7 linked regions of the Homo sapiens genome follow. The protein of the gene in region 1 interacts with the protein of each later gene in a biochemical or structural test. Each region holds a gene or a part of one and is shown in the gene's direction. Other genes may lie near its edges. The genes, in order: SLCO1C1, GIPC1, LIMK1, MYO18A, SHROOM4, CNKSR3 and PDLIM5.

What was found.
Region 2: the proteins of SLCO1C1 (region 1) and GIPC1 interact in a test that uses a peptide from one of them, tested with the Homo sapiens proteins (one large-scale study listed by IntAct).
Region 3: the proteins of SLCO1C1 (region 1) and LIMK1 interact in a test that uses a peptide from one of them, tested with the Homo sapiens proteins (one large-scale study listed by IntAct).
Region 4: the proteins of SLCO1C1 (region 1) and MYO18A interact in a test that uses a peptide from one of them, tested with the Homo sapiens proteins (one large-scale study listed by IntAct).
Region 5: the proteins of SLCO1C1 (region 1) and SHROOM4 interact in a test that uses a peptide from one of them, tested with the Homo sapiens proteins (one large-scale study listed by IntAct).
Region 6: the proteins of SLCO1C1 (region 1) and CNKSR3 interact in a test that uses a peptide from one of them, tested with the Homo sapiens proteins (one large-scale study listed by IntAct).
Region 7: the proteins of SLCO1C1 (region 1) and PDLIM5 interact in a test that uses a peptide from one of them, tested with the Homo sapiens proteins (one large-scale study listed by IntAct).

Annotation. Positions count from the first base shown.
Region 1 is NC_000012.12:20,701,832-20,705,331, forward strand, and holds part of SLCO1C1 (solute carrier organic anion transporter family member 1C1), read left to right. Parts: intron 1-3,500. UniProt on the Homo sapiens protein: Mediates the Na(+)-independent high affinity transport of organic anions such as the thyroid hormones L-thyroxine (T4), L-thyroxine sulfate (T4S), and 3,3',5'-triiodo-L-thyronine (reverse T3, rT3) at the plasma membrane.
Region 2 is NC_000019.10:14,489,628-14,493,127, reverse strand, and holds part of GIPC1 (PDZ domain-containing protein GIPC1), read left to right. Parts: intron 1-211; exon of another isoform or gene 212-215; 5' UTR 216-271; intron 272-1,384; 5' UTR 1,385-1,472; intron 1,473-3,500. UniProt on the Homo sapiens protein: May be involved in G protein-linked signaling.
Region 3 is NC_000007.14:74,086,804-74,090,303, forward strand, and holds part of LIMK1 (LIM domain kinase 1), read left to right. Parts: intron 1-3,500. UniProt on the Homo sapiens protein: Serine/threonine-protein kinase that plays an essential role in the regulation of actin filament dynamics. Acts downstream of several Rho family GTPase signal transduction pathways.
Region 4 is NC_000017.11:29,072,399-29,075,898, reverse strand, and holds part of MYO18A (unconventional myosin-XVIIIa), read left to right. Parts: intron 1-984; coding exon 985-1,129; 3' UTR 1,130-3,500.
Region 5 is NC_000023.11:50,629,195-50,632,694, reverse strand, and holds part of SHROOM4 (protein Shroom4), read left to right. Parts: intron 1-3,500. UniProt on the Homo sapiens protein: Probable regulator of cytoskeletal architecture that plays an important role in development. May regulate cellular and cytoskeletal architecture by modulating the spatial distribution of myosin II.
Region 6 is NC_000006.12:154,392,186-154,395,685, reverse strand, and holds part of CNKSR3 (connector enhancer of kinase suppressor of ras 3), read left to right. Parts: 3' UTR 1-3,500. UniProt on the Homo sapiens protein: Involved in transepithelial sodium transport. Regulates aldosterone-induced and epithelial sodium channel (ENaC)-mediated sodium transport through regulation of ENaC cell surface expression.
Region 7 is NC_000004.12:94,573,942-94,577,441, forward strand, and holds part of PDLIM5 (PDZ and LIM domain protein 5), read left to right. Parts: intron 1-1,674; coding exon 1,675-2,093; intron 2,094-3,500. UniProt on the Homo sapiens protein: May play an important role in the heart development by scaffolding PKC to the Z-disk region. May play a role in the regulation of cardiomyocyte expansion. Isoforms lacking the LIM domains may negatively modulate the scaffolding activity of isoform 1.

The DNA of each region.
Region 1 (3,500 bases):
GTGTGGAATAATCCAAATGCGCTCTACAAGAATTTACTGCAATGATGAATAGAAGTTACATCATAAAAGGGATTTTTCCACCCAGTGGTCTAGAAAGAAGAATAAAGGGATTCTATTACCAAGAACACAAGATCAGAGCAGGCAATAAAAATTCAAATCTCAGGTGCCTTTGGTTAGCAATTGACTACAGACTCCTTAGAAATTAAAAAGATCGAGTAATTTGAGTCACTGTTTTAGAAGTAATTTAAAGAGGATAATCCTAGTTAGTCTGCTTCCTGAATTGATAAACTAAAAGGCTTTAATTTTTTGCTGAAGTAAACGAAATAGTACCCTCTCTGGTCCTTAAGGCTTGTTTAGATTCAGATATACACCATAGTAAAACCTCTAACTGCTCCAATTTTAGCTTTACCTGGTGAACTTTCAGAAAAGTGAATAAATATTTTTCAACTCTTTAACAATTTATTTCTTTTCATACATACTATGTGTTTTGGTTCTTACTCTGAATATCACAGAAAAAATAAAATGAATAAGTAACCTTTTGCCTTCAGGCATTTGCTTCCCAAATTCATCTTTTGTCATCCTTCCAGAATGACATTTCTTAGTGCCAAATTTTAATGTCCACACAAATAACTGGGCAATCTTTTAAAAATCTTTTTTTAAAACCTGAATTGGTAGGAACAGGATAAAATTCTGCATTTCTAATAAGCTCCTAAATGATACTGATGCTTCTAGTCAGTAGATCACATTTTGTGTAGCAGGTTTCCAAAACATCTGATCACATCAATCTTTTATGTAATTTGCTTAGATTGGCCCGGATGGTTGATTTATTCCTTGAGCCCTGTTCTACTGATGGCCCTGCACTGAGTGAAGGGCCAAAGAGAATCAAGGTAAAGGGTGATACATTATATCATGAGAGAAAAACAAGGAGAAAGAGGTAACTGGTGCAGATAAAAGAATAGAGCAGATATGAGCAGGCAAAACATTATATATCATGATGTTTTGATGTTTTTCTCACTCTAGATTATTATATAAAAATATTTTAGAGCTGAAGAGGCATAGAAATGATTTGGTCCAAAGTTTTGTTTGGGCTCCCAGGTCCTGATGCAACTTGAGAGACAAAGTTTATATTTGATAGAGAGAGTATACTAAGTTTTCACAGGAAGTAGCAGAAAACCATGACTCCAAATTCACATTAATTCTTCCAGACCATTCTAGGTATATAAATTATTTATTGGATTGGATGCCTTAAAATGGCTTAAAAGTTCTCTTACTTCCATTGAAAACCTTTATCCCAAACATCACAGGTTTGCCCTAATTATTTGAGTTACATAAATTTCCAGACAAATGACTTCGCTGAACATAATCTTAATTTACTTCTTTTGCCTCTTTTTGCATTCCTTCTTTTCAAGATTCTAGAACAAATATCATCCTCCGTCTTTATGTTATTTGTATGTGGCAACTTTGTTGAAATTCTATTAGTTTTAATTGATTTTCCATGGAAACTGTAGAGTTTTGTGGACAAATTGTCTAAAACAAAATATAATTTCGTATCTTTCTTTGCAACTCTTAGATTTTTGTTGTTGTTGTTGATATTACCTTATTACATTAGCCTCAGAACTGTGTTGAAGAGAAGCATTTACAATGGACATCTTTCTCTTGTGTTTGACCTTGATGCAAATACTTTTAAAATTTTAGTATTAAGCAATATGCTTGCTTTGTGGTTTTGATAGATACACTTTAAAAGCTGGTTTGCTCAGATTTGTTTTTTCCTAACATAAATCAATGGTTAATTTTATTTAGTACTTTTACAGTGTCTATTAAGTTAACCATGGAATTATTCCCCTTCCATTTGTTATATAGGGATTTAATTAATAATTTATTGTTAGTTGGTGGTACTCTTGTACTACTATAATGAACTGCGCTTGGTTGGGATATTTTTATTTGTATATACTATTCCGTTTGCTAATAATTTGTTTAGGATTTTTACATCTATCTTCATAATCAAGTTTGGGCTCTAATTGTCTTTTCTTATATTGTCCTTGTCCAGTTTTGGTTTTAAGAAAATAGTAGTCTTACAAGATGAATTGAGTAGCTTTCTTTTTTTTCTGTTATCTCGAGTGTGTCTGTGTGTGTGTGTGTGTGTGTGTGTGTGTGTGCATAGACAGACAGAAAAAGAGAGGAGAGCAAGAATATGTTACTTTAAAGTTTGGTAAGACATATTTCTAAAACTTTCTGTACCTGTTTTTTTGTGAGAGGCTAATGATGGTAGATATGGAATAATTTTTATATCCAATTTCATTTTTTAAAGATTTTGTATCATCATTTATATTTCAAATGTATCTCCTGACAACTCAGAAAGGATACTAAGGAAGCAAAAACTTTGATAGATACAGTATATATATGGTATATAGATATATATATATATCTGTATTACAGGTACTGAACTCATATTGTCTTGTATATGACATGCCCATTAACGTAACACAGAAATAGCTTGTAAACAGAAGTGTTTATTGTGTGGTATTGGTGGAGTGTAGGCGAGAATAGGAGAGAATTACCTATAAAGTGAATGTCAACTTTCATTTTATGTTGGTTCGTTTATTGTGGTACATTAACAAACATATAGATAGAATTATCAAAATAATATGATACACAATGTCTTCTACTAAATACTTAAATTTCAAATGAGACATCTTGTGCTAAATTATTCGTTTTTTAATATGAACATTAAGAAGAGCTTAATTCTTCTTGGAGCCATAAAGACTAGGACCACTGTGCAAGTCATGTTTCTCACTATCATTCTTATTATCCTCAAGCCCACAAAAATTACTGCTTTATTTCCAGTTTACTAAAGCTGGCAATGTGCGTGAACAGTAGTAAATTAGATGATTGCTTACAGATGTAGGGAAACATGCTTTGCTCAAAAATTGGAAATGAGGAGAACTTCAAAGCAAGGCCACCCATTAGCCATCACAATCAATTGCTGGGAAATTGTTAAGATCTTACTGTATTTAGCATGGTACATCTTAAAAACTAAATATCTCAAATAAATATAGCTAAAGCTTTAAAGCCCCTTGAAGTCTAAAACCCTAAACAATGTTTATCAAAGCATGTTCTAGGAATCATCTCCATCAACACACTTGAGTTAGTATTACAAATGCAGATTTCTTGGCCTGACCTCAGATCCATGGAATCAGAAACGTTTGGTACTTGCCAAGAATCGCATTTTTAACAAGTTTTCATTTCCTTAACCGTTTCCTGTCAGTATTTTTACGCACAGCAAAGCGTGAGAAATATTACTTGAAACATGTTTAATCACTTATCACCATCATCAACTAAAAGTAACGTGTCACATGCTTCATTAGAGACATTTTAGAAAACCATAATTTCTACTTTCAAAAAAACCCAATATTTTTAAACCATTTTTCACAAAAGAGATAAATGGGCACATTTTATAGAGATTTTGTATTTCATAAAATTTGCTTTATAGGCATATGTTG
Region 2 (3,500 bases), on another chromosome or scaffold:
AGGCTTCATGGAGGAGTGGGCCTGGAGTAGGTATTGGCAGGCAGAGAGGGTTGGGATATTCCTGGGCAGGGCAGGGCAGAGGAGGAGACACCCATAGTAATGACAACAGCGTCCTTAAATGGAGTCTGAGGCAGAGTGTAGATGGGATACGTGGGTAATCTCTTTGGATTTCCACAACCACCTTGAGAGTGACAGGAATTCCACCCATTTTTCAGATGAAGAAACTGAGGCCCTGTGATGTGAAGTGACTTGCCCCCCAGCCACACAGCTGGTAAGTGGCAGGGGTGGGATTTGAACCCAGGCCACGAAGCCTCTTATGGCCGTGGCAGGCAGATTCATTACTCACTCACTTTCCTCACTGCTGTTAATGCCTCCTCACGGGTGGGGACACGGAAGCTGGCATGAACCAGGGCAGTGGGGTGGGCAGAGAGAGAGAGTAAGGAGGCTGGGAATTGGTGGTCAGGATGTAGGGATCTTGGGAAAAGGAGGAAGCTTGAATCTTGGTACAGATGGCAGTAGCAAGGCCGGGTGCAGTGGCTCACGCCTATAATCCCAGCACTTTGGGAGGCCGAGGCAGGTGGATCACGAGGTCAGGGGATCGAGACCATCCTGGCTAACATGATGAAACAGCGTCTCTACTAAAAATACAAACAATTAGCTGGGCATGGTGGCGGGCACCTGTAGTCCCAGCTACTCGGGAGGCTGAGGCAGGAGAATGGCGTGAACCCGGGAAGCAGAGCTTGCAGTGAGCTGAGATCGTGCCACTGCACTCCAGCCTGGGCAACAGAGCGAGACTCCGTCTCAAAAAAAAAAACAAAAGATGGCAGTAGCAGTAATTGTCACCAATATTTATGCAACCCTTATTGTGTGCCAGGACTGTTCCAAGCACATGCATGATTTCCTTGGAGCTCAGAGAGGTTAAGACCCTTGCCCAAAGTCACACAGCTATTAAGAGATGAAGCCAGGTTCCAGATTCATGTTTTTAGTTTCCTGCCTCCCAGTGCGTAGAGCTGGCGGAATTGGAGGGATGATGAGGGGTCTTTTCTTTTTTCTTTTTTTTGAGATGGAGCCTCACTCTGTCACCCAGGCTGGAGTGCAGTGGCACGATCTTGGCTCACTGCAAACTCCACCTCCCGGGTTCATGCCATTCTCCTGCCTCAGCCTTCCGAGTAGCTGGGACTGCAGGCGCCCGCCACCACGCCTGGCTAATTTTGAAAATATATGGCTGGGCGTGGTGGCTCATGCCCACCTCGGCCTCCCGGAGTGTTAGGATTACAGGCGAGAGCCACCACACCCGGCCGACACTGATTTTTCTTTCCAGCGAGGTCAGAGCCCGGGGAGGGGTCAGAGCAGAGACAAATGCGACATGACTTATGTTTTACAGGACCATTCTGGCTGCTGTCTGGACAAGAAGTCGTAGGGGGTGAGGGTGGAAGCTGGGAAACCCACAGGAGGCAACCACACTAGTTTAGGTAAGTGATCATGGAGATGGACCAGGTGAGATGAGAGGGTGTGTTAGGGGACAGACGAATGGATGCATGAACAAATGGATACATGAGACTAGGTGCAGGCTGGGTGCAGTGGCTCACACCTCTAATCCCAGCACTCTGGGAGGCCAAGGTGGGCGAATCACCTGAGGTCAGGAGTTCCAGACCAGCCTGGTCAACATGGAGAAACCCCATCTCTACTAAAAATACAAAAATTAGCCAGGTGTGGTGGCACGCACCTGTAATCCCAGCTACTCAGGAGGCTGAGGCAGGAGAATCGCTTGAACCTGGGAGGTGGAGGTTGCAGTGAGCCGAGATCGCGCCATTGCACTCCAGCCTGGGTGACAGAGTGAGAGTTCATCTCAAAAAAAAAAAAGATTGGATGCGGCCAAGCTGAATCCAGCATGGCCCCCTGGAAGAGACCATTGGATAGGAGGCACCAGGAAGTCCCTTTTACATAAGAAAATATAGGCTGAGCGCAGTGGCTCACACCAGCCTTCTTTGGCTCACACCATGTTGGCCAGGCTGGTCTCAAACTCCTGACCTCAGGTGATCCACCCGCCTCGGCCTCCCAAAGTGTTGGGATTACAGGCGGGAGCCACCGTCCCTGCACCCGGCCTAACTAATGTATTTTCTTTCTTTCTTTCTTTCTTTTTTTTTTTTTTTGAGATGGAGTCTCGCTCTGTCACCCAGGCTAGAGTGCAGTGGCATGATCTCGGCTCACTGCAAGCTCCGCCTCCCGAGTTCACGCCATTCTCCTGCCTCAGCCTCCCGAGTAGCTGGGACTACAGGTGTGTGCCACCACGCCCAGCTAATTTTTTTTGTATTTTTAGTAGAGACGGGGTTTCACTGTGTTAGCCAGGATGGTCTCGATCTCCTGACCTCGTGATCCACCCGCCTTGGACTCCCAAAGTGCTGGGATTACAGGCGTGAGCCACCACACCTGGCCTTTTTTTTCTTTTTGAGACAGAATTTCGCTCTTATTGCCCAGGCTGGAGTGCAATGGCACTGTCTCAGCTCACCTCAACCTCTGCCTCCCAGGTTCAAGCGATTCTCCTGCCTCAGCCTCCCTAGTAGCTGGGATTACAGGCATGTGCCACTACACCCAGCTAATTTTGTATTTTTAGTAGAGATGGGGTTTCTCCATGTTGGTCAGGCCAGTCTCGAACTCTCGACCTCAGGTGATCCGCCTGCCTCTGCCTCCCAAAGTGCTGGGATTACAGGCGTGAACCACCGTTCCTGGCCTAACTAATGTATTTTCTTTTTTTTCTTTTTGAGACTGAGTCTCTCTCTGTTGCCCAGGCTGGAGTGCAATGGCACGGTCTTGATTCACCGCAACCTCCACCTCCCAGGTTCAAGCAATTCTCCTGCCTCAGCCTCCCCAGTAGCTGGGATTACAGGTGCCCACCACCGTGCCTGGCCTAATTTTTTGTAATTTTAGTAGAGACGGGGTTTCACCATGTTGGCCAGGCTGGTCTTGAACTGCTGACCTCGTGATCCGCCCGCCTCGGCCTCCCAAAGTGCAGGGATTACAGGTGTGAGCCACTGCACCTGGCCAACTACTGTAAGTTCTGGAGAACTAATCCGGGCTCTTGAGAGCAAGCACTCATTGCTTCCAGAGCTACTTCAAGCCATTCAGGAGAGATCTGGCCCCATAACACAGACACCTCCCACTAGGCCCCACCTCCCAACACCGCACCACCACTTTGGGGATCAAATTTTAGCATGAGTTTCTTTTTTTTTTTTTTTCTCCTTGCCATGTTTCACATTTAATAAGATTCTGTCACTTTAATACATAAAACCCTTTGAAATCAATGTCAACCAGGAAAATTCATGTTAGAAAAAATTGGAATGAGAGCTAATATTGTATATTCAGAACATCTGAAAAAACATTTTTGACTATTACAAAAGTTTATTTAACAAAAAGTCTAATATGAAAATGTACATGACCTAATTTTTACATCATAGTAAAACAGGCCCTATGGAGAGAGGACATGGGTTTCTCTGCTGAAC
Region 3 (3,500 bases), on another chromosome or scaffold:
GTGTTCATGCTCTTGCAGGGAGGGAAGACAAACCAGGCCTTAAGGGAAACCAGGCCACCCTCAGTGTCTTCCAGGCTGCTTGCGAACATGCATAACCCAGTCACACCAGCCCCAGTGTCCAGACACACACCCACAGGTAGGAAGAAAGTAGGGTCAGGGTTGTGGCGGAGGATAAAGAGTACATGAGGACCTGAAGGTCACCCAGTAGGACCATCCTGAGAAGCCAGGAGCAGGGGTCTACCTGCCTTGAGCCAGAGCAGGGCCAGAGCAGGGGTCTCAAAGGATGTGAGATTTCCTGGGTAGAAAAGTAGAGTGGAGGTGGGGCGTGGTGGCTCACACCTATAATCCCATCACTTTTTGGGGCTGAGGTGGGCAGATCACTTGAGTTCAGGAGTTCGAGACAAGCCTGGGCAATATGGCAACACCCTGTCTCCACTGAAAATACAAAAAATTAGCCGGGCGTGGTGGCGCATGCCTGTAGTCCCAGCTACTCAAGAGGCTGAGGTGGCAGGGTTACTTGAGCCTGGGAGGTGGAGGCTGCAGTGAGCTATGATCGCACCACTGCACTCTAGCCTGGGCAATAGAGCGAGACCCAGTCTCAATTTTTAAAAAAGAAAGAAAGAAAAACAAATGGTGTGGGAGAGAATTACAGGCATAGTCACCAAACAGCAAGGTTCAGGGGAGAAAACTCCATAAAAGGGTAGAAGGTGAAGCTTCTGGGATGCCCAGCAGGGGTCAAGACATCCACCACTAGGACTTTATTTTAGGCTTCTGCCTTGGTTTATTTTTTGGTTTTTGGTTTTTTTGAGACAGTCTTGTTGTGTCGCCCAGGCTGGGGAGCAGTGGCGCGATCCCTCCTCACTGCAACCTCCGCCTCCCAGGTTCAAGCGATTCTCCTGCTTCAGCCTCCCAAGTAGCTGGGATTACAGGTGTGCACCACCACGCCCGGCTAAGTTTTGTATTTTCAGTAGAGATAGGGTTTTGCCATGTTGGCCAGGCTGGTCTCGAACTCCTGACCTCAAGTGATCTGCCCGCCTCAGCCTCCCAAAATGCTGGAATTACAGGCATGAGCCACTGCACCTGGCCTCGGTTTGTTTTTTTGTTTCTTCTTTTCTTTTTTTTTACACAGGGTCTTGCTGTGTCACCCAGGCTGGCGTGCAGTGGTGAGATCATAGCCCACTGTAGCCTCCAGCTCCAACTGGTTCAAGCGATCCTTCTGACTCAGCCTCCCAAAGTGCTGGGATTACAAGCATAAGCCACCATGCCCAGCCTGTTTTTTCTTTTTTAGGAATAACGTCTAACGTTTTCTAACATTCAGTAAGGGACAACCCCTGTTCTAAGTACTTTGCATAGTTAGATATTAGTGCTGTCTTTGTTTTGCCAGAGAGAAAATTGGGACACAGAGAGGTTAATTCTCTTGATGAAAGTCACACAGCCAGTGAGTGAAATGAACACACTCAGTGTGGCTGAAAGGAGACAGACAGCATGCCCTGGGATTCTGCATCAGGTGCTCAGAAAGAGGCCTTCGGGGGGCAAGAGGGCTCTCAACAGGCAGAGGAAACCATCTGCACAGCGGTGGGATGGTGCGGACTGCTGAGGGAACAGGAACAGTTCCCTTGGAAGGAACAGAATAAGCTGAGGGATCCAACAAGAAACAAAGTTGAGACCGATTCGTGAAGGGCCTTGAATGCCAAGATAAGGAGTTTCAGAAGTCAGGATGGGGGTGGTGGCTCATCCCCGTAATCCCAGCACTTTGGGAGGCCGAGGCAGGCAGATCACTTGACCCCAGGAGCTTGAGACCAGCCTGGCCAACGTGGTGAAACCCCCGTCTCTACTAAATATTCAAAAATTAGCCAGGCATGGTGGCACATGACTGTAATCCAAGCTACTCGGGAGGCTAAGGAAGGAGAATCACTTGAACCTGGGAGGCGGAGGCTGCAGTGAGCTGAGATCACGTCACTGCACTCCAGCCTGGGAGACAGAGCGAGACTCCATCTCAAAAAAAAAAAAAAAAAAAAATAGAAGGGAGTCGGCAGAAAGCCAGGGAGGGGCTGGGGTGACATGCTGTTGAAGAATGCCATCCCAGTGGGCCGGTGGTGGTATCTAGGCAGGGAAGGGACTGTCCCAGTAACTCAAGGGTCTGAGCTCATAGGACCTGACCTGGGACAGTGACTGAGGATGGAGAGAATTTCAGGCAGAAGGGACAGTTTTTGGTGAGTATTTGTCATATTGGCTACCATGCATTGAGCACTCTTCATGCTAATTTGTTAAATCTTCATCATAACTCTATGAGGGACTGTATGTGCCCAGTTTGCATGGGAGAAACAGAGATTCCATGCAATCAAGTGCCTCGCTGAAGGTTGTAACATCTAGAGCTGGGACTAAAACCTTCTCACTCCACATCGCCACAGAGTAGGAAAGGCAGGGGCTGGCGGTGGCACATGCCTATAATCCCAGCCCTTTGGGAGGCGGAGGCAGGTGGATCTCTTGAGCCCAGGAGTTTGAGACCAGTGTGGGCAACATAGTGAAACCTTGTCTCTACAAAAAAATTAGCTGAGCATGGTGGTGGTGCCTGTAGTCCCAGCTACTCAAGGGCGCTGACATGGGAGGGTTGCTTGAGCCTGGGAGGTGGAGGTTGCAGTGAGCTATGATCACACCACTGCAAGCCAGCCTGGGTGACAGAGTGAAATCCCATCTCAAAAAAAAGAAAGAAAGGAAGAAAGAAAAAGACAGGGGCTTCGGGGAGGGCATGGGCACTGGCGAATGGCAGGGTGGAACCTGAAGCCATCTGGTTTTCTAACCTGGGCACTGGGGAGTTGGTGGTTTGTTGACTCTGATGGAATTGGGGGTCATGTTGGGGAGGAGACATGCTCATCTGTGTTGAGCTGGAGGGGACATGGGCTATCCATGGTGGCTGTGTCCTGCCCAGAGCTAGCCATGGGAGCCTGAGTCCAGTTGGAGGTAGGAAAGTCAGAAAAAACGGCCGCCTCGGAGCTGGCCCTGAGATGGTGAGTGGGATTTGTGATAGGGCCAAGACGAATGAAGGGAAGAACTTTGGGGACCCCTGTGTCTGCGGTGAGGGGGGAGATGGAGCCTTGGGTGATGGAGAGAGGGTCAGGAGTAGAGCCACAGAAGCCACAGGAGGGAAGCCGTGTTACAGGATGGGTGTACCTGGCTTTGGAGTGGCCTGTCCCAAATCACTCACCAGGAGAGGGGTGAGTCCCCAGGTCAGGGCAGTAAAGAGGAGGCATGTTTGTGCTGTCCCTGGTGTAGTGAAACTCAAGAAGGAAGCCAGGTGCAGTGGCTCACGCCTGTAATCCCAGCACTTTGGGAGGCCAAGGCAGGCAGATCACCTGAGGTCGGGAGTTTGAGACCAGTCTGGCCAACATGGTGAAACCCCATCTCTACTAAAAATACAAAAATTAGCCGGGCCTGTTGGTGGGCGCCTGTAATCCCAGCTACTCAGGAGGCTGAGGCAGAAGAATCGCTTGAACCCGAGA
Region 4 (3,500 bases), on another chromosome or scaffold:
AGGGCTGCAGCTCCAGGGACCACGCCGAGTGTGGGGCATCAGTAGGAGAGGAGCCACACTGGGCTGTGTTTTCTCCAATGGTGTTGAAACGAGAGTGCACTTGAACTGACGGAGGCAGTGGAGGCAGGAGGAGTACGGGAAAGGTGGCCCCAAGGCTTTGGGAGAAAGAAAAGAGAAGGTGAATGGAGCTGTGAGATGAGGTCCCCTCTTCCCTGTTCAGTGCTGTGATCCTGCTCCATCAGGGGGAAGAGGCCTCTTCACATCTGGGATAGCTGGAGGCCTCCAGAGCCAGAGGCCTGATGAAGACTCTGAGTTATGTTATTGTACCAAGAAAGGGGCTTTTCCCCTTGGGCCATCCTAAAACAGGTCTTCCCAGCCTCTCCTTCCTGAGCCTCCATTTCTTGTTAGTAGATGATGGCATGGTCAAAGCTGAAAATTCTCACAGGCCTCAGGGAGCCATCATTAGGGGAAAGGGTTCAGATCTGGGAGTATTTGACAGGGAAAGCGCCTCCTCCTCAGAAGGAATCTTTTTAGGAATCACTCGCCTAAGAGAGCCCCTACCCTAGACAAGTTGTACTCACCAGACCTCCAGTCTCCAAGCCAATGTGGTTCACGGACTGCCTGCTTCAGAGCCTTCTGGGGAAGGACTGAAAATGCAGAATTACTGGGTTGTACCCAAAAGCCAGCGATTCAAGGTTTCTAAGAGGAAGGGCCCAGGAACCTGCATCAGATTCTTATGCACGCTTGAGTCCGAGACTCACTGCTCTCAGCATCCCTTTCCTCGGAGCTTTAAAAGCTTCCAGAGTCTCCTTCCTCTTAGCATTTTGAGTATCTTCTAAGTAAGCCAAGGAAGGTTTTTACTTAACAATGTTTGGCTTTTGGGGAGTGCTCTGACGCAGCTTTGTGGGCCTCCAGAACCAAAGGCGTGCGTGCTTAATGGTAGGAGTGTCATTTGTCCCTAACCTTATTCCTCGGTCCCTGCAGCCCCACCAGCTACTGGAAGTCCCTTGCCCCTGATCGGTCAGATGATGAGCACGACCCTCTCGACAACACCTCCAGACCGCGATACTCCCACAGTTATCTGAGTGACAGCGACACAGAGGCCAAGCTGACGGAGACTAACGCATAGCCCAGGGGAGTGGTTGGCAGCCCTCTCACCCCAGGGCCTGTGGCTGCCTGGGCACCTCTCCCAGGAAGTGGTGGGGCACCGGTCTCCCCCACCCGACTGCTGATCTGCATGGGAAACACCCTGACCTTCTTCTGTCAGGGGCACTTTCCAGGCTATGGGTGTCTGATGTCTCCACGTGGAAGAGGTGGGGGAAAGAGGAGTTTCTGAAGAGAACTTTTTGCTCCTCTGTCTCAAAATGCCAGACTCTTGGCTTCTACCCTGTGTCACCGTGGGCAGTGGCAGGTGGCCTGGCACTGCATGGAGCCAGCACGTTGACCTCCCTCTCAGCTCCCTGCTCAGGGACGGTGGACAGGTTGCCTACTGGGACACTCTAGGTTGCTGGGTCCATGGGGAGGATTGGGGGAGGAGAAGCAGTGCCTTCCCTCTCGTGTGGGGTGGGGGCTCTCTCTTCTTGGTGCCTGCTGTCTTTCTACTTTTTAATTTAAATACCCAACCTCTCCATCACAGCTGCATCCCTGAGAGTGGGAGGGGGCTGTAGTGGTAGCTGGGGCTCCCAAGAACGACTCGGGAATGTCATCTCCATCTTCACCCTTCAGAGAGCAGTCCTTTCTCTGTGCAGCTGGAGACGCTGGTGAGGAGAGCCGGGTCCAGGTTCTTAAGAATGAGGTGCGGAGGGGCTCTCCGGTGCTGCTGGGCTGGGTTGAGCAAGCCTACGCAGACAAGTGTGTGTGTGGACCATCCGCACCTCCAGCCCCCACCCCACCCTCTTTGTCTCAGCGTGTTATGTGCAATGACCTATTTAAGGTAAACCCATTCCAACTACAGCAGTTCAGGGCTGATCCAAGCACTGCCTCCCTCCTGCTCTGTCCAGGTGGTCTGGACCATAAACTCAACTTGAGAGGGAAGGCTTGGGGTTGAGGACTTGTGATCAGAAAAACTGAAGATGGAAGTTTTGGCCGGTGCTCATTAGACATGAGTCCTCACTCTGTGTCCTGAGCCCGTGTCATTCTTCCAACCTCCCTGCCCCCACACACTTATCCCAGACACAACACCATGTGGTCTGGAGGTCCCAGCCCCCACCCTAAAAAGGTTATCCCTGAGAACTCCACCAGACTTGGGAGCCCAAGTGCAGTGCCTGGTGCTGCTCCCATCTGCCGCCCCCCTTCTCTCCTGCAATTGGTTTGTACTCACTGGGCTGTGCTCTCCCCTGTTTACCCGATGTATGGAAATAAAGGCCCTTTTCCTCCTGGCTGCGCCAGTTTTCCTGCCTGTTCCTTCAGGCTCAGGCAAAGTCTGGATTGGTCCTGGGGGTGGTGGGCAGAGGCAGGATTCTGATGGGGACCGTGAGGGCATCACCCTGGTCTCTGGCCTGCTCCCCAAAGTGTCAGACCAGTGCCACTTAAAGAGCCTAGGCAGCTCATTTTGGGGCAGGCAGAGGTAGTGGAATGAGGGGATTGGCCAAGGAAGACACAAGCCCCACCTTTTATGTGAAGAGCCTAGGGACTGTGATTCAGGTTAGCAAGGGTGGCAGAGACTCCAAGCCTCATCCTCCCTAGCCTCCACAAGGGAATGTTGAGGTCCCTCTGATTGTTAAATCTCACCAATTACAGAGATTCTCTTCTCTTCTCTTCTCTTCCTCCTTCCGTCCCTCCCTCTCTCCCTCTCTCTCTCTCTTTCTTTCTTTCATTCTCTTTCTTTTTGGATTCAAGCCCTTCTCATTAGAACATTTTTTAAAAGCTTAATTTTAGCCATTTCAAAGGTGACTTTTTGATCAAAACTTGGCAGAACTAGCTCGGGCCCACAGGGCAATGTGAATAGGTTGGGAGTGCTGTCTCTGCCCTGCTCGGTCCCTGTCTTCATGCCCTACTCCATGCTTTGTTCCTTCATTGACAGCTAAGAGGCAGCTCATGCAGAAAGGCAAGAAACAAATGACACCCCTCCTCCTCTTCTACCTTCTACCTTCTCATTCTGTAGTGTGGCCAGTTATAATCCCTGAATGAATAAAGTAGTTTGGACAGATGGGTGGGAAAAAATAGCAAACAGCCCAAGTGCCGAGGCTCTGATAATGTCAGCCATCCAGAAAGAGTCCAAAAGGGAAGAAGGGAGAAAAGTCTCCCCCAAAATGAATGGGACAGAGTGTGAAGTGGATCTGTCTCGAACAGAGACTGCCCCCTCCATTGCCCCACGATAGAACAGAGAAGAGGATAGAAACAATAGTAAAAGGGAAGTTACTTGTCTTTTGGAGACAGAGTCTTGCTATGTCGCCCAAGCTGGAATGCAGTGGCATGATCTCAACTCACTGCAACCTCTACCTCCCGAGGTTCAAGCGATTCTCCTGCCTAAACCCTCCGAGTAGCTGGGACTTAACAGA
Region 5 (3,500 bases), on another chromosome or scaffold:
CTTATTGCCTCCCATTTTCTACTTCAGAAGTATTTAGAGATGCAAAACTTGCAAATATCCCCAGGCTTTGCTTTCAGAGATCTGACTTGTTGGGTTTTTAAAAAGACAAATCCTTTCCCCTTTCTCCATCCTGTCTCTGTTGGAGACCCAGGTCTAAACTGGCTGCTCTTATATCCCGGTTATGACCTATTACCATAACACAAGCTACCACCATCCCCCAGGCTACTTCTGGGAGGACTCCCTAGGTCCTTGCCTACTCACTGCCAGATTACTTCCCCATGGCATCCCTGATGCCATCTTTTGGCCGGTGCATTCAAACCAGAAGTTAATTCCTGTGTTCAGCTGTTGCATACACAGACACTTTTGAAATGACTTAGTATCTGAATTTGCTCAATATATATCCTTGGTAAAAAGGAACTTCAAGGGTGATAGAAGCCTTACACAAAAGACTATGAACTCTACAATTCCTTTTATATGAAATTCTAAAACAGCTATTCTATGGGGGAACAAATTCAGAACACTGCTCGCCAATGGGAGGTGGCACAGAGATTGACTGGAAAAGGGCAGAGGGAACTTGTGGGGTGGTGACAATGTTCTATATCTTGGTAAGAGTTTGAGTTAAACATATGTACCTGTCAGAACTCAACAAATGTATAGCAAGGCTCCTAGACAGCCAATGCACTTAGTATTTGTGCATTTCACTGGAAGTAAATTTTGCCTAAAAATGTTGTAAACAAATATTAAACTTTATTTAATATGTATGCTGAAGTGTGTTTGAAGTATACTGCTGTATTCAACTTATGTTTTCAGCATACAAATCTTGTACATATTTTGTTATATTTGTCCCTGAGATTTTATGAAAGCGCCGAATCCTAGCCACCCAACCACCAGGGATATTTGTCCCTAAGATTTTATGTTTTTAGATGCTATTATAAAGAGTATTATTTTCTTAATGTCAAGTTGAAATTCTTGATTACTAGTCTATAGAAATATAATTGAATTTTGTGTATTGACATTGTATCCTGCAACCTTGCCAAACTCACTTATTAGTTCTAATAGCTTTTTGGTGGATTATAAAACATTTTCTACATACACAATCATGCCATCTCCAAATAGAATTTAGTGTCTTCCTTTCTCCTGTACATGCCCTTTTCTGGGAGAGAGAAGAGCCTTATTGCACTCTCACCTTCAATACAATGTTTGGAGGAAATGGTAAGAGTGGACATTGTAGCTTTTTTCTTAATCTTTGACTATAAAGTTTGATGTTAGCTGTAGGATTTTTTTGTAGGTGCCCTTTAATTGAGGAAAATCTCTTTTATTCTTAGTTTACTGAGAGTTTTCATCAGAAGTGGATGTTGTATTTTTTTTCAAATGCTTTTTCTGTATCTGTTGAGATGATCATATAGTTTTTCTCTTTTAGTCTACTGATGTGGTGAATGACATTGATTGATTTTTAAAATAAATAGAAGCCTAGCATTGCCAGGATAAATCCCACTTGGTCATGATGTATTATCCTTTTATATGTTACTAGATTTGCTAATATTTTGTTAAGGATTTTGCCCTTATGTTTATCAGGGATTTTAGTCTATAGTTTTATTATAACATCTTTTTCTGTTTTTTGTTTTTTTTGTTTGTTTGTATCAAGGTAATGCTAGCCTTAAAAAATGAGTTGGGATGTATTCCCTTCTCTTTTATTTTCAGGAAGAGTTTGTATAAAATGTCTTCCTTAAATGTTTGCTTGAATTCATCACTGAAGCCATCTGGGCCTGGAGGTTTTTTGGTAGAAAGCTTTTTAACTACAAATTCAATTTCTTTAATAGATTTGGGGACATTTAGGTCATCTATTTCTCCTTGAGTAAGCTTTAGTAGTTTGTGTCTTTCAAGAAATTTGTCCATTTCATTTACATTTTAAAATTTATGGGGATATAGTTGTTTTCAACTTACTTTAAAATGCACCAGGATTTTAAGATGGATTGGTAGATGGATAGAGGAGTAAATGGATATATGATAAGGCAAATATATCAAAATGTTAATTGTAGAATCTAGGTGCTGGGTATATGGGTGATCACTGTGAACTTCTTTCAACATTTTTGTATGTTTGAATATATTCATAATGTTGAAAAAAAGAGGAGAGGAAATATAAAATAATGGTTTTAAGGGCACCGAAGCTGGAACCAGACTGCCTGGTTTTGAATTTCTTCCCCCGAACTTACAATGCCTAAGCTTTCCCATCTAAAAGCATGGGGGTAGTAACAACACCTACTTCATAAGTTGGTTGTGGGGATTAAGTGATGTAACACATTTAAGACTCAGAGCAGTGACTGCCAGATTGTAATCATCTTATAAGTGAGTTATCATCTCTTAAAGGGACATTTTGGCTTAGCTTGAGAGACTTTTGCTGGAAGAAGGACTCACAGATAGACAGTAGACAAAGGGGGCTGAGATTGGGGGTGAGTGGGGCGGGGGAAGTGAGGAGATGACGGCTGCAGCGGTGTCAGCCCAGGACCAGCAGCTCTATAAGAGATGGAGGTACGATTTGCAGGTTGCAGCAATTGGCAGCAGTAATGCATGCGGGTGAGGCTGTGCCTACACCATGCCTCTATTTTTTGTACTCTGAGGGAGGGATACCTTGGGTTCCTAATGCTTGTTAGACCAGCTAAGCAGGTCTGCTTAGATACTAGGCATTCCGACACGTGGATGGCTGCCTAGGAGACACCACATGCCCATTTCTGCCCATCATCTGAACCTTCCACTCCTACTCCACCCCCCTCAAGAAATGGGAAAAACTTGCAGCATGGGTTAAGATGCCATCGCTCTGATGACTCAGGTACTTGTGGTGGTAGCTATCTGAAGTAGGGCTGAGATCCTGCTCCTAATGCCCCTGGACGAGGTTGGTGAACTAATTGTCTCCTGTTCAGTGCTGTGAAGACTGAAATCAGCATGCACTCACGTCCTTCATACCAGCTTGTTTTTCATTCATTGTCAAATTATTTCACTTACCAATTGTATGGGATAAGTTATAATAGGATCTCCCATTTTACAGCTGAGGAAGCTGAGAAAGCCAAGGCTCAGAGAGGTCACACATCTAGCAAGTGGCAGAGCCAGAATTTGAATAACATGACAGTAACTAGCATCTCAGTGTCTACTGGGCACCAGGTACTATTCTAGATGCTTTACATGTATCAAGTCATTGAGTTCTCAAGCAATATTATTATCGTGATTATACTATTATATAGTTGGGGAAACTGAGATAAAGAGAAGTTGAATGGCTTGCCTGAGGCCGCAAGTGAAAGGCAGGTGTGCGATTTGAATCCATGCTATCAAGCTCCAGAGGCCAAGCTCCTGACTGTGCTACACTGCCTCTCCATAAGCTGATTGCAAAGCCCAGGCCCTCTCTAGTGTGGCCGGATGCCCTCTAGCAGTATCACTTCCACTGGGACAGCAAGTTCCCATCACAATCTCCATTTGCAGCAAGCGGTGGGGATAACTGCCTCTTTGAT
Region 6 (3,500 bases), on another chromosome or scaffold:
TCCCAAGGGGTTGAGTGGTAGAACCACTGAGAATATTGTTGCTGCTCTTTTGGAGACAACAAACTGCATTAATAAAAGTCTGAGAACAAGAAAGTTGAGTTTTCAAGTAATGTCCTTTGCATATTGCTACATAGGGCTCATCTGAGTCTGTGATGTTCTACTTTGTTGATGAAAGAAAACAAGTGGAAATTCTGCTCCCCCACACATCCTGCACTGCAAAAAGATAACAAGTAGCAGGAGATACTCAATTATGATGCAGTTCAACAAAGAAAACAAATTAAAATAAAGAGATCCTGGGTGGTTAAATACAGAGTCTCCTTTGTAAACAGCAATGGATGATGATGATGACTGTTACCAGGGCTCTGTATGATCATTTTCCCAATTCTTTGGAGTACTTTTTTCAAAAGCACTCTTGTAGAATTAACTGGAAACATAGACTACCCTTCACTCATTACATGGGAAATGGGATTGAATTCTCTTCTTGGCAATGGAAAATACTTGATGCATGCAAATAAGAAAACTCTTACTTTTTCCTTCTCTCCTTGCAGGGGGAGCACGCGTCCTAAGCTTGCCAGGAAGCCCTGCTCTCCTGCCCTGGGCACCTCCGTTCCACTTGACCTTTTCCACCTGTACTCCCTGCATTTTGGTCTCTTGCTCTGGTCTTTAGCCTTCGCATTTTCCTGATGCAGCCCAAACCAGTCACCTCTCTCCTAGATTCATTCTCTGTGCTCAGACCATCTCTTTCCTTTAGTTCCTGTGACGAAAGAAAATGTATTTGGCCATTGGAGGTATAAGCAACAAAGAATCCAACCCACACAGCTTTATATATGCAGGTTCTCTATATGCTCTTCTTGTGAACAGCGTGGGGAGAGGAAAATAGACTTGGCAAGAGGACTAAGAACAGAATCGGACAGTTATCTGATGGCTTTCCTAAGGTTCAGGAAAGAACAGTGGTCCCTTTGTTGGGCCTTTCTGTTGTTTCTTTGTTTTCAATTTCACTGATTTCTGCTTTTTATTTTCTATTTTCTTCTGTTTCCTTTGGAATTCTTCTTTTTTTTTTTTTTTTTTTTTACTTCTTGTATTAGGCTCATGCTATAACAAACAACCCCCAAATCTCAGTGACTTTACACACTAAGAGTTTACATTTTCCTCATCAACGTCCACTTTGGATGTTCCAGGTTGGGTAATGCTCTGTGGCTGTCCTCTAGCTAGTGACTCAGGGACTTGGGTTGCTCCTGGTGTCTCCAGCGTGGTTATGGTGTCTCCAATTTTGGACTTCAAGGTGACCCAGGCATTATCCACCTGGTAAATTGGGAGATGGGTCCCAGGAAAGTGAATACTCAACCAACCTGGCCTAGAAGTGACAATAATAAGGCCATGTGTGGTGGCTAACAGTCAGAAACCCAACAATTGGGAGATTGAGCTGGGAGGATTGCTTGAGACCAGAAGTTCAAGACCAGCTGGGCACCATAGTGAGACCCTATCTTTCAAAAAAATATAACAACCAGGCTTGGTGGTGTACACCTGTGGTCCCAGCTATTTGGGAGGCTGAGGTGGGATAATCGCTGGAGCCCAGGAGTTTGAGGTTACAGTAAACCAGGTTTACACCACTGCACTCCAGTCTGGATGACAAAGCAAAACCCTCATCTCACAAAAGAAAAGAAATGACAATCACAGCCACTGCAACTTCAAGGAAGGTTGGGAGAGTGATATTGGTCAGGATGAGTGGTCTCTGACATGTTTCTTAAGTTGGATATTTAGCTTATTAATTTACAACTCTTTTCTAATATTAATACTCAAGACTACATTTTCCCCAAAACATTTATTTTGCCATGTTTTGCAAGGCTTGGTATATGGCATTTTCATTACTCTTTAATTCTAACTAATTTTTAATTTCTATTATGATTTATTATTTGATCTATGAATCATTTTGAAATTTGTTTTTGTAACCTTGGATAGGGAAAGATTTCTTATAGAAGACAGTAAAAGGGCTGAGTACAAAAGAAAAGACTAATAAATTCAGCTACGCTAAAGCTTAGAACTTTTCCTCATCATAGGACACCTTAAAGAAAATTTTTAAAAAGTTACAAATTGGGAGAAGATTAAAAAGTCCTAAGGGTTAGCAGTAAGAATATATACATATAATTATTACAAATTGGCAAGAGAATGACAAATCAACACAAAAACGAGCGAAAAGGCATTTTGCAAAAGAGAATCAGATGGTCCATATGCATGTGAAGCGATTTTCACTAGCGAGCAGGGAAAGTGAAGTCAAAATCACAGGGAGATGCTGCTCTCTACCTGACTGGCAAAACTGAAATGATTAGAAAATACTTGGAGGATATCCTAGAACGATCAGTGGGATCTGGTATATTATGTGTATGAGGTTAAATTAGCAGTGAGTATTCACATACCCTATGACTCAGCAGTTTCATTCCTAGATATATATCCTGGGGATTAGAAACACTAAGTAGGTGGGTGCAGTGGCTCACACCTACAATCCCAGCACTTTGGGAGGCCAAGGCAGGTGGATCACTTGAGGTCAGGGGTTCGAGACCAGACTGGCCAACATGGTGAAACCCCATCTCTACTAAAAATACAAAAATTAGCCAGGCGTGGTGGCGGGCACCTGTAATCCCAGCTACTTGGGAGGCTGAGGTGGGAGAATCGCTTGAACCCCGGAGGTGGAGGTTGCAGTGAGCTGAGATTGTGCCACTGTACTCCAGCCTGGGCGACAGAATGAGACTCCATCTCCAAACAAACAAACAAACAAACAAACCACTAACTACCTCAGAGGACAATGCTAACATTTCAAAGTGTTCTAGAAGTTGGTTTCCCAGAAAAGAAGTCAGGCTCTTGTGGAGCTCCATGGAAACTGGCAATGACCCATGACTTAGGGCAGTGAAGTCTCATCAAATGCAAGGCTTAGACCCCATTCTGCTGCTGCCGTCAGGGGAGGCAAGGGCTCCTTGTTCCCCAAACATCGATGCTAATGAAGCAAATCCTGCTGCTAGTTTGCAGTGTTGCCTAGCTGCAAACACAACCTCTGATGATGCCAATAGAGAGGCTGGTGCCTCCTTCATCATAGAGCTTACAATCCCCACAAGGTTTCGGGACCCTCTTTTGGATTCTGAGGGTGGGCTCCTTTAGCCATCTGTTTAGTGCCCCAGATGAAATTGACAGCAGGGGACCTGCACTCCTTCTACTGCTTTTTCTCAAGGCATCCCCAGCAGAGGGTCTCTAGGGTGCCTGTTATGTGTGCTGTTTGGCCATCTGCCTTTGTAGAACACAGCCCAATGTCTGTTGGCAAAAAAAGGTTTACATGTGGTATATTCTTACCATGGAATATTCTGCAGCAAGTAAAAATGAATAAATTACAGCTATTCATATCAAAGAGATGGATTTTATTAATATAGTGCTGAGTGGGAAAAAGCATCAGAAGACAACATATAATGGTACACTCTTTTTTTTTTTTTGAGATGGAGTCTCTCTCTGTTGCC
Region 7 (3,500 bases), on another chromosome or scaffold:
ATCCCTAATTAGAAAATCCAAAATGCTCCAAAATCCCAAACTTTCTGAACACTGACATGCTCACATGACCATTGCAGCATTTCAGATTTTGGATTCTTGGATTAGGGATGCTCCTGCATTCTACAAAGATTCAAAAATCTGAGAATATCTGAAATCTGAATGCTTCTGGTCCCAAGCTGTCTAAATAAGGGATACTCAACCTGTATTGATTCGTGTGGGCACTAAGCTACTTATTTTTCTCAATTAGTTTTCTTCTTCCTATAAGATGAATTGAGGCTGCGCGCGGTGGGTCACGCCTGTAATCCCATCTTTTTGGGAGGCCGAGGCAGGCGGATCACCTGAGGTCAGAAGTTTGAGACCAGCCTGGCCAACATGGTGATACTTCATCTCTATTGAAAATACAAAAATTAGCTGGGCATGGTGTCACGCATCTGTAGTCCCAGCTAGCCAGGAGGCTGAGGTGGGAGAATCACTTGAACCCGGGAAGTGGAGGTTACAGTGAGCTGAGATCACACCACTGCACTCCAGCCTCAGTGACAGAGCAAGACTCCTGTCTCAAAAAAAAAAAAAAAAACAAGATGAATTGAGATTACCTTTTTTCTTAAAATTAAACAGTAGAACCACCATTGTATGATTTTTCAAAAATTTGATTTTTTCTTTTGATATGGTAGGGTGGAATAGGGATTTATTCTTGATCTGAAGTCTAACGCTCTACCTCTGAGCTATCCCGCCTCCTGGGATTTATTCTTGAATGTTGTAGAAGCTTAGTCTGATTTTGTTTAACTTTAAATATGCTTTGGAATAAGGATTGGCAAATAAAAATTCTGGTAATTTTAGGAGGAATTGACCTTTCTTACTAGTTGTTTTTTCTTTGGCTGCTGACGATGGGGAAATATTGAAGATTTTTTTTTCTTCATGTAACTATTAAATATTTATTTTGGAAAAGGAAAAGAATTTTATTCTATCTCTGAATCATATCTTAAAACATTCAGAGAGAGAAATGGAGGTGGATTACAAGAAAGAAAGGATTTTGTTTTATTTGCTTTTTTAAAGTTTTTTTTTTTTTTTCAAATTCTTTAAGATTATTAATTAGAGTTTGCACATTCCTGAGTTAGGTGAAAATTATCTTATTCCCTGTGTTTTTTGTTTTTTTAAACTTAAAGAGTTAGAAATGTGCTGCTCCTTCTGCGTGAAACAAATGATTCCACTCTGGAGAGAAATGAAACATGTTTGAAAAATGGGACTATGGGCTTTGAAAGATGGAAAGATGGGCTTTGGATATTTTAACATAAAAAACACCTCAGTTAGCAATGTTTTGTTTATTGTAGGGTATTTAAACATTTTTCCTTTGGAATATGCCTAGGTTGACACTGATGAGGGGCTTTAGGCTTTCTGATAGTTTTCCTGCTGTATTTCCGAAATATTTTGAAACTACTTTCATTTTTATTTTTAAAAATTATACCTAATGTGTGCATCTGTGTTATGCATGTTGGGACTAGTTAGCATGCACGTTATGCTTTATCAGCCCATTGTTTTTATCTGGAAACATGATGTTTGAGCTGCTAACCTGATTGTGTTTGTCTTTTAAAAAATCAGCTCTGTGTTCTTTTCGGTGAAATATATTTTGCATGTGTTTGGTGTGGTTTTGTGTATGTTTATTTTTGTTTTACATAGGGAGAACCTAAAGAAGTAGTTAAACCTGTGCCCATTACATCTCCTGCTGTGTCCAAAGTCACTTCCACAAACAACATGGCCTACAATAAGGCACCACGGCCTTTTGGTTCTGTGTCTTCACCAAAAGTCACATCCATCCCATCACCATCGTCTGCCTTCACCCCAGCCCATGCGACCACCTCATCACATGCTTCCCCTTCACCCGTGGCTGCCGTCACTCCTCCCCTGTTCGCTGCATCTGGACTGCATGCTAATGCCAATCTTAGTGCTGACCAGTCTCCATCTGCACTGAGCGCTGGTAAAACTGCAGTTAATGTCCCACGGCAGCCCACAGTCACCAGCGTGTGTTCCGAGACTTCTCAGGAGCTAGCAGAGGGACAGAGAAGAGGATCCCAGGGTGACAGTAAACAGCAAAATGGGTAGGTGGCTAAGGTGCTTTCTGCTCTTACTAAAACTCTTCTTTCAGGTAATTTCCAGGAAATACTCTACATTCCTCTCCCCCAAAACCAACTTTCTTTGAAGGAAGGGAGATGAAGTATTATTTGCCTCATTAACATATGGCCTTTATATACATAGGGTACTTTCTGCAAAGCAATTATCACTTATTCAAAAGCTACTTGTGCATTTTGACATGTTCTGAACCATGTAACATCTCTGTAACTCATTTTTTGTAAGTCCCGACACAGCATTGAGCAGCTGGCACTTGTAATGCAAGGCAAATCTTGAATCTTTCTTCCTCAATTTTTTCATTCTTTTAAATAGGCCACCAAAAGTTCAAACAGTGGTTACAGTTGCTGTCACCTTACACAACTCATCGTAAGGAGAGGGGAAATCATGAATTTGTAAGGGGTTTTTTTTCTAGGAGGTAATCTTAGGAAAACCAGTCCGCTTTTGACTCATGTCTATATGTGAAGCATTAGCTTAGAGCAGAGAGCTAACAACATTGTTTTCAGATAAGTTTAAGTTAGAATTTATTCTTTAAAAGCAGACAGTAATGAAACAACAAGGCACGCTTAGAAAGCATTAGAAGCAAATTATAAAATACTTTCATTGTAAACGTTTTCTGAAATGAGTAAATTTAAGCCATTGGACACTAAACATACATGTTAGCAGAACACTTTGAAAATCTGTTTCTTATCGTTTTTCCCTTTTGGGGGTATCTTTTTATTAAAAAAATTGGTTGAAGTTATTAACTTATTTGAACTACACATAGTTATAAGATCACACATCTGTTTTTCAGCAACCTTCAATTATTTGTTTATTTTTTTTTAACACTTTCGGTTCAAATATAATGTTATCAGATAGTCAGAAATTTATGTTGAGGAGCAAGGATTTAAGTTGGCCGTGAGAGGTTATGTACAGTATCTTTTTTAAAAATAATTCTTTTCTATAATGTAATCCTACTTGCAAAGAAAAAAGTAAAGAAAAGAGAGAGAATAATGATGGTCATTTTATTGCTTTTGGAATTCAGGGATGATACTTTAAGGCAGTCATTTATGTAAAATCATTTTTATCAGATTTATTGTGACAAAAATGTACCTTAAAAGGAAGACAAAGGGAAATAGTCTACAGGCCTGATGGTTTTTACCAATGCCAGTTCCCAGGAAAATATAATTAAAATACTTGTGTGGATAGGTCCATTCTCTGAGATAATCCCTTCTGAATGTTAATTCCTGTAATGAAGAGGCTGTGCTTTCTGTAGCACTGCTGCCATGGCAACTTTGGGGCTTTGAAAGAGAAGGTGGCAAAACTCCAGGCTGCTGCTGAGAGAGGGAGAGCAGGAGCTCTAGAAGAACAGCTCCTGGGCTGTACATACGGTCTTGAGG